Linked DNA regions of Homo sapiens: region 1 is linked to region 2. The links come from fine-mapping of genetic effects on gene expression. A gene starts in region 2. The other region holds a variant in brackets. All regions are shown on one strand. Distances are from middle to middle.

What was found. PIP is the estimated chance that this variant, and not a neighbour inherited with it, causes the effect.
Region 1: its variant is the best candidate, but not a certain one, in a credible set for the expression of FALEC in sigmoid colon (GTEx, PIP 0.51).

The regions. Positions count from the first base shown.
Region 1 is chr1:150,541,044-150,545,428 of GRCh38, reverse strand. No RefSeq gene overlaps it. Among named protein-coding and RNA genes, the nearest start is that of ADAMTSL4, 6.2 kb to the left of the region's middle. RefSeq lists a cis regulatory region at 1-28 and enhancers at 1,122-1,622, 1,623-2,123. The variant A/G (reference allele first, on the strand shown) is at 2,161.
Region 2 is chr1:150,513,792-150,518,176 of GRCh38, reverse strand. It overlaps FALEC (focally amplified lncRNA regulator of ECM1), which reads right to left and starts at 2,425. Exons shown (of 6, transcript NR_186305.1): 1 at 2,115-2,425; 2 at 57-404. RefSeq lists a silencer at 2,231-2,600 and enhancers at 2,691-2,840, 2,911-2,980.

The sequences.
Region 1 (4,385 bases), 27 kb before region 2:
AAATACCAGATTAAGTTTGTGGACACTGTCTCCAGGATAAAAAGTTTTTAGGCTGGGTGCGGTGTCTCACACCTGTAATCCCAGCACTTTGGGAGGCTGAGGTGGGTAGATTGCTTAAGCCCAGGAATTTGACACCAGCCTGGGCAACATAGCAAGACCCTGTCTCAAAAATAAACAAATACATAAATAATTTTTAAAAAGAAGTTTTTAAGGCCGGGCACTGTGGCTCACACCTGTAATCCCAGCACTTTGGGAGGCTGAGGTGGGCGGATTACCTGAGGTTGGGAGTCCAACACCAGCCTGACCAACCCTGTCTCTACTAAAAATAGAAAAGTAGCCAGGCGTGGTGGCGCATGTCTGTAATCCCAGCTACTTGGGAGGCTGAGGCAGGAGAATCACTTGAATCTGGGAGGCGGAGGTTGCGGTGAGCTCAGATTGCACCATTGCTCTCCAGCCTGGGCAACAAGAGTGAAACTCCGTCTCAAAAAAAAAAAAAAAAAAAAAAGAGAGACGTTTTTAAAAAGATTATGTAATAAGTAGATGTTCATCCAGCCTGTAATCCCAGCACTTTGGGAGGCCGAAGTGGGCAGATCGCTGAGGTCAGAAGTTTGAGACCAGTCTGGCCAACATGGTGAAACCCCGTCTCTACTAAAAATACAAAAATTAGCCAGGCGTGGTGGCAGGCGTCTGTAATCCCAGCTACTCGGGAGGCTGAGGCAGGAGAATTGCTTGAACCCGGGAGGCGGAGGTTGCAGTGAGCCGAGATCGTGTCATTGCACTCCAGCCTGGGTGACAGGGCGAGACTCCATCTCAGAAAAAAGAAAAGTAGATGTTCATCCAAAATTATCTCTAAAGATTGGACAGATAAGGAAAAAAAGAGGGGACAGGCTGACATTGGTCTGACTTTGAGCTCAACATACTGATTTAATAATAATAATATAGCTAACATGTATATAGCACTTACTTTGTGCCCCCGACCGGGCTGTTAGAAGAGCTTTACACACATTACCTCACTCTGTCCTCATTGTAACCCTGTGAGGTGGAGACTGTTACACCATTTACAGATTTGCAAACAAAGACACAAAGACAAATCCACTAATTTGTCTCTAATCTCTCAGCTAGAAAGTGAGAGAGCCAGGATTCTAAATTAGGCGCTGTTATTTGTATACATTGTATGCAAATAAAATTTCCAGAAATTTAGCTGAATTTACTTAATAATTTTTTCCCCTGGCAGTAGCATAAGGAAGTTTTATAAATTAAATAACATTTTGAATGAATGCCTCATATAAGACGTTGTCCCTATTCCAAGATAATGCTGATGCTAATACCAATAATATGTACAGTTGGGGCCCAGAAATGAACATGCAGCTGTCTGTCTTTAGGTTTGTGGTCATAGCAACCATTTTCGGAAAGCCTGGTGTTTGCTTTTCTGCCTCTCCGAATCATGGTTGCTCAACTCCTTTGTTCCAAAACAGACACCCCATTCCCAATTGCTGCGCGCCAGGCTGGCTTCCAGCCGTTGAGTCCGTGTCCTGTCATGCTGTCTCCACTGTTTTGTCTCACTGATGCTGTTCTTCTGACCATTCCGCTTTGGCTTGACGCAGCCGCCCATACTAGGCAGCTGCTATGAGAGCAGCCAGTGGTGACCTGTGCTCTTCCAGGGACTGGAGGGTGAGACCACCTTGCTGTGTTTACCTTTGTATTCACCACCTCACTCTGCACACAGTAGGCATTTAATGAATGTGTGTGGGGTGAGCACTGCCTCAGCTCTGGCCACATTCCAGCATTTTCTGGTTGTTGTCCTGCCCCATCACGGCCCAACTGCCTTGCACCTGATGAAATGATGAAGAAACAGGATGTGATCCATTTGGTACGATGAGGACCAAGACATGAATGGGATATTCTGGTCTCCCAGTCACCGCTATGTAGACTTTATTTCTTTATTTATTTTCTTTTTTAAAAAAGATATACTCGGTCAGGCGCGGTGGCTCACGCCTGTAATTCCAGCACTTTGGGAGGCCAAGGCGGGTGGATCACGAGGTCAGGAGTTCAGGACCAGCCTGGCCAACATAGTGAAACCTCGTCTCTACTAAAAATACAAAAATTAGCTGGGCATGGTTGAGGGCATCTATAGTCCCAGCTACTCGGGAGGCTGAGGCA[A/G]GAGAATTGCTTGAACCTGGGAGGCGGAGGTTGCAGTGAGCCGAGATCACGCCACTATACTCCAGCCTGGGCAACAGAGCGAGACTCCATCTCAAAACAAAAAACAAAAACAACAAAAAAAGATATACTCCTATATTTTTTTCTTTTTTTTTTTTGAGATGGAGTCTCGCTCTGTCGCCCAGGTTGGAGTGCAATGGCAGGATCTCGGCTCACTGCAACCTCGCCTCCCAGGTTCAAGCAATTCTCCCGCCTCAGCCTCCCAAATATGTGCCACCACCAGCTAATTTTTGTATTTTTAGTAGAGACGGGGTTTCACCATGTTGGCCAGGCTAGTCTCGAACTCCTGGCCTCAGGTGATCCACCCGCGTCAGCCTCCCAAAGTGCTGGGATTACAGGCGTGAGCCACCGTGCCTGGCCAACTTCACAGGTTTTCATAAAACCCCAAATACAACTGATGGAATATGTATGAAAGCTGTGGAGTCATATACAAAACGAAGGCAGCACTATTGTTAATGATGCTGTGCAAAATTATTTTGTAGCTGATGTTCTAGGTAGATCAAGACTGCATTAAAGGAAGACTTCATGCTGCTCCTCTGTGATGCTCAGAGTTCTTTGCTGGGGATGCTCTCAGAGTCCAACAAGACTCTGGTCAGGATTTGCCAGTGACAGAGAGGACATAATGTCTTTTCACAGTAGGTTGACAATAATGGCTCAGCCTCTGTGTCAGGAATTGGGGGAAAAAATGATGCTGCCATCTGTACAGGACCTTTCTTTTCTTTCTTCTCTCCTCCCCTCTTTTCTCTTTCTTTCTTTTTTTCTTTCTTCTTTCTTTCTTTCTCTCCTTTTTCTTTCTTTTCCTTTTTTTTTTGAGACAGAGTTTCACTCTTGTTGCCCAAGCTGGGTGCAGTGGCGCAATCTCGGCTCACTACAACCTCTGCCTCCCAAGTTCAAGTGATTCTCCTCCCTCAGCCTCCTGAGTAGCTGGGATTACAGGCGTGCACCAACACGCCTGGCTAATTTTTTGTATTTTTAGTAGAAACGGGGTTTCACCATGTTAGCCAGGCTGGTGTCGAACTCCTGACCTCAGGTGATCCGCCCCCAAAGTGCTGGGATTATAGGCGTGAGCCACCGCGCCGGCCCTTTCTTTTCTTTCTTTCTGCTTTTTTTTTTTGAGACGGAGTTTTGCTCTTGTTGCCCAGGCTGGAATGCGATGGCATGATCTCAGCTCACTGCAACCTCTGCCTCCCTGATTCAAGCGATTATCCTGCCTCAGCCTCCCGAGTAGTTGGGATTACAGGCCTGCACCACTACGTCCAGCTAATTTTGTATTTTTCGTAGAGACAGGGTTTCTCCATGTTGGTCAGGCTGATCTTGATCTCTTGACTTTGTGATCCACCTGCCTCGGCCTCCCAAAGTGCTGGGATTACAGGTGTGAGCCACTGCACCTGGCTTTTTTTTTTTTTTTTTTTGAGATGGAGTCTCGCTGTGTTGTCAGGCTGGAGTGCAGTGGCGTGATCTCAGCTCACTGCAACCTCCGCCTCCTGGGTTCAAGCGATTTTCCTGCCTCAGCCTCCCGAGTAGCTGGGACTACAGGTGCACGCCACCATGCCCAGCTAATTTTTTTTGTATTTTTAGTAGAGACAGGGTTTCACCACGTTGGCCAGGATGGTCTCGATCTCTTGACCTCGTGATCCACTCGCCTTGGCCTCCCAAAATGCTGGGATTACAGTCATAAGCCACCACGCCTGGCCTTTTTTCTTCTTTTTTTTAGATGGAGTCTTGCTCCAGTCACTCAGGCTGGAGTGCAATGGTGTGATCTCAGGGCTCACTGCAACCTCCACCTCCTGGGTTCAAGCGATTCTCCTGCCTCAGCCTCCCAAGTAGCTGGAATTACAGGCACCCACCACCATGCCCGGCTAATTTTTGTATTTTTAGTAGAGACGGGGTTTCACCATGTTAGCCAGGCTGGTGTCGAACTCCTGACCTCAGGTGATCCGCCCCCAAAGTGCTGGGATTATAGGCGTGAGCCACCGTGCCGGCCCTTTCTTTTCTTTCTTTCTGTTTTTTTTTTGAGACGGAGTTTTGCTCTTGTTGCCCAGGCTGGAATGCGATGGCATGATCTCAGCTCACTGCAACCTCTGCCTCCCTGATTCAAGCGATTATCCTGCCTCAGCCTCCCGAGTAGTTGGGATTACAGGCCTGCACCACTATGTCCAGCTAATTTT
Region 2 (4,385 bases):
AATTTCAAAAATACAGAAAAACTGACAGATTGTACAGTAAACAACCATATACCTACCACCTAACTTATTGCTATATTTTCTTCTTCACATCTTTCCATATACCTAGAAGAATTCATTTTTGAAGCTGAATTTGTGATATCTAGGAGACATCCAAGTGTCCTGTGTAATAGGCTGCTAGTGTAGAGTGCAGAAATACATTAAGAGCAGGCTACAAGTGCTGCCTCCTTTTCTTCATCTCCCATTCATACTCAACTCTCCAGAATTTGACTTTTGACACCTTCCGTTTGAAGTTGCTACCACTGAGGACACCGACTACTGAGAAGTCCAAAATTGAACTCATGTCTTCCCTCTGTGAAACCTGCTCCTCTTCCTCCTGTATGTTCTGCTGCCTTAGTCAGTATGAGCTGTGAAGTACCATAGACAGGGTGGGTTAAACAGCAGAAATGTATTTCTCACAGTTCTGGAGGCTAGAAGTCCTAGATCATGTGCCAGCATGGTCAGGCTCAGGTGAGGGCCCTCTGCCAGGTTGCAGCCTGCCAACTTCTTGTATCTCACAGGGCAGGAAGAGCTAGAGAACTCTCTGGGGTCCCTTTTATAAGAGCACTAATCCCATTTATGAGGGCTCCACCCTCATGACCTAATTACCTCCCAAAGGCCCCACCTCCTAATACCATCACACTGGGGGCTAGGATTTCAACAAATGCATTTGGGGGTACACAAACATTCAGTCTGTAACACTTACCTTAGTTACCACAGCCTCAAACTTGGTAGTCACCCTAGACACCAGCAAACAGGTTCTCTCAACCCTATCTCCTGAAGAGCTTTTAAAAAAAGTCCCCTCCCTCACCATGCCCTCAACCTTTTTTTTTTTTTTTTTTTTGAGACGGAGTCTGGCTCTGTCACCCAGGCTGGAGTGCAATGGCACAATCTTGGCTCACTACAACCTCTGCCTCCTGGGTTCAAGCAATTCTTCTGCCTCAGCCTCCCAAGTAGCTGGGATTAGAGGCATGCGCCATCATGCCTGGCTAATTTTGTATTTTTAGTAGGGACGGCTTTCACCATGTTGGTCAGGCTGGTCTCGAACTCCTGACCTCGGTTGATCCACTGGCCTCGACCTCCCAAAGTGCTGGGATTACAGGTGTGAGCCACCGCGCCTGGCTAGGTATATTTAAATATACCACACTTTCTGTGTTATTTCCTCTTCCTGGAAGATCTCCCTGAAGGCCAGGCTAGGTGGCTGTCTCAGAATTCTGAGAATATTTCTAACATTAGATGTTCAAGTCTCCACAGACGCTAAAGTCCCTGAAGGTGGTGTTGTAGTCTTCGTTATAGCCAGAGTACTTTTAGCACTCTGCCTAACACAAAAAGGACTGTTTACTTTAGCTGAACTTTGCATACATTCAATGCTTTGTATATCCTTCCCTTTCAACAAAACCCTACTCAAGCTTGAATTCTGTGAAGCTTTCCCTGGCCTCTCCAATAATTAGGAGCTCTGACTCCTTTACTTTACTCACCGCCCCTGAATTGAGCAAGTTATATTTTAATAGTGTATACAACGAATTGCAGTGAATGTTAACACGTTCACCTTTTATTGCTAACAGCAATGCTACCCGTGCTTCCAGGCTCTATCCAAACTCACTGCTTCCAGATAATAGCTGGCTGGTCCCTAGGGAGAATTCTTTAACTCTCAGCATTTGATGCTCAATTCAGTACCTCCTCATATTCAGCACTGTAGCTTACAAGTGCTCTCCGGGTTCCCTTCCTCTCCTCCCCGACAGACTAAACTGCTAGGGTTTGGGACCGCAGTCCTCCTCTCCTCTGACTCCCACCTCTCTGCAGCATTTGGCGCTGCACTTTGCAAACGCAGCTCTAAAGCATCTCCGGGAAGCTCCTGCACAGACCAAAGCCCCCCCGCTCCCTTTTTTTTTTTGAGACAGAGTCTCCTCTCTCGCCCAGGCTGGAGTGCGGTGGCGCGATCTTACTGCAGCCTCCGCCTCCCGGGTTCAAGCAATTCTCTGCCTCAGCCTCCCGAGTAGCTGGGATTATAGGCGCCCGCCACCACGCCCTGCTAATTTTTTTTTTTTTTTGTATTTTTAGTACAGACGGGGTTTCACCTTCTTGGCCAGGCTGGTCTTGAACTCCTGACCTCGTGATCCACCGCCTCGGCCTCCCAAAGTGCTGGGATTCCAGGCATGAGCCACCGCGCCCGGCCCAAAGCCCTTTAAAGACAAGTCTCCGCTTGCGGATTCGCCCGCCAGGTGACAAGGCTTCGTGGGCCAGGACTCCGCCCGCTCCCCGTGGGCTGGGGCGACCCAGGCCAGGAGGGTACACGTGGGACCGGGGGGTAGGGGAATTGCTGGGCCGGCCTTTTCCCCCTGCCTCCCCCGGTTCCTCTGTCCTGGAGGCCGTAGGAGATGCGCAGGACGCCCGCACATGCGCAGTGTCACTCTCGAGCTCCAGACTCGAGCGCGGCGGGCAGGAGGCCCAGGCGGCCCCGGGCTCCCGAGACTGGGCTGCCGGCTCAGGGGCGGGGCACAGCGCTGCCCTCGCCCGCTCATTGGCTCGCGTGCTGACGGACAGGTGGGGCGGACAGCCGGCGAAAGATCTGAGGAGCCGCTGGACTGGAAACTGCTACTGGGCTAAAAATACTTAAGTAAATAAATGAAAGCCTGTGGAGGAGGAGAGGAAGGAGAGGCGGGCGTGGGTTTGGGAGCAACTGAGGCTCCGCTTGCCCCTGGCTGGCGCAGGATGATGGTTCTTGGTTCACTCTCTCCGTCTCCGCTAGAACTGGAGCGGAGAAGTCTGCTTTCTGGAAGGTCGTCCTGGCGGCGGAGTCACACAGGACTTGTTCCCCTGGGACTCTTCATTCCGAGTCTTCATTCCGATTCTTTCAGATCCAGCCTTGAGGCCTCGGGTTCCTGGGAGCAGCTTTGTAGGGCTTGAGAGTCCTAGTCACCGCCACCCTCGGGTCCAGCTCAGGTTGGGGGCTACAGCTCCGTCCCTCCGGCACTTGGGACGACACTCTTTGAACTGGCCTCCCAGCGTCCCGCCTTGCTGGCTGCCGACTAAACTTTTTTTTTTCTTTTTGAGACTGGGTCTCGCAGGTTGAAGTGCAGTGCCGAGACCATAGCTCTTTGGGTGGCTGGGATTACAGGCGCGCGCCACCTCCCCGGCTCTCCGACTAGACATTATTTTATTTTATTTTATTTTTGAGGCACAGTCTCGCTGTGTCGGCCAGGCTGAGTGCAGTGGTGCGATACTGGCTCACTGCAACCTCCACCTCCCAGGTTCAAGTGATTCTCGTGCCTCAGCCTCCCGAGTAGTTTGGATTATAGGTGGGCACCACCACGCCTGGCTAATTCAGTAAAGATGGGGTTTCACCATGTTGGTCGGGCTGATCTCGAACTCCTAACCTCAAGTGATCCGCCCGCCTCGGCCTTCCAAAATGCTGGGATTACAGCGTGAGCCAGTGCGTCCGGCCTAGACATTCTTAAAAGGCAAATTGGAACACATCCTCCGCTTGAAAACGCCAGTGCCCCCTGGGCCAGGGCACCAAGATCCACTTAAAACCCTGCGGGTGAGGCATTAGTGATGAGCTCCTGCTTATCATTCCAGCCATATCAGAGAGGAAGGCCACCAAAGAGTCAGGTCCTTTCAGCCTTGACCCTTGTGCGCACTCTGCCCGCTCACACCCTCTACTTCTTTACTGGAGAAACTCTGACCTCAACGCCCCTCCTGTGCACCTGTGCTGCCCCCAGCCCCACTCCCACCTCGGGACGTTCCTGTCATGCTCAGAGCACGCTGGGGGCCCTGTACCACAACACTTGTCACACCTGCTAGGCTCAGGGACAGTGAACAACCTCAGGGCAGGGGCTGTGTGTGTTCTGGATGTGTATCCCCAAGTCTAGCAGAGTGTGCATAGATAGGGGTTCAATAAATGGATATTGGCCAGGCACAGTGGCTCACGCCTGTAATCCCAGCACTTTGGGAGCCTGGCCAACATGGTGAAAACCCGTCTCTACTAAAAATACAAAAATTAGCTGGGTGTGCTGGTGCACGCCTGTAATCCCAGCTACTCGGGAGGCTGAGGCAGGAGAATCGCTTGAACCCAGGAGGGTTGCAAGTTGCAGTGAGCCAAGATCGTGCCACTGCACTTCAGCCTGGGCGATAGAGCGAGACTGTGTCTCAAGAAAAAAAAAAAAAGGATATTGAATGAATGAAGGCATGAATTCTAAGGATCAAAAGTGAAGCTTTAAAAATGTTAGGCTGGGCTGTGGCATTTTGGGGGCTCACCAAGGCCAAGAACCATATCTTCTTTGAGTCCTGATAGCTAGCTAACAAGGTGGCACTCCTTTCAAAATATGTGAATAAATTCAAGATGGCAA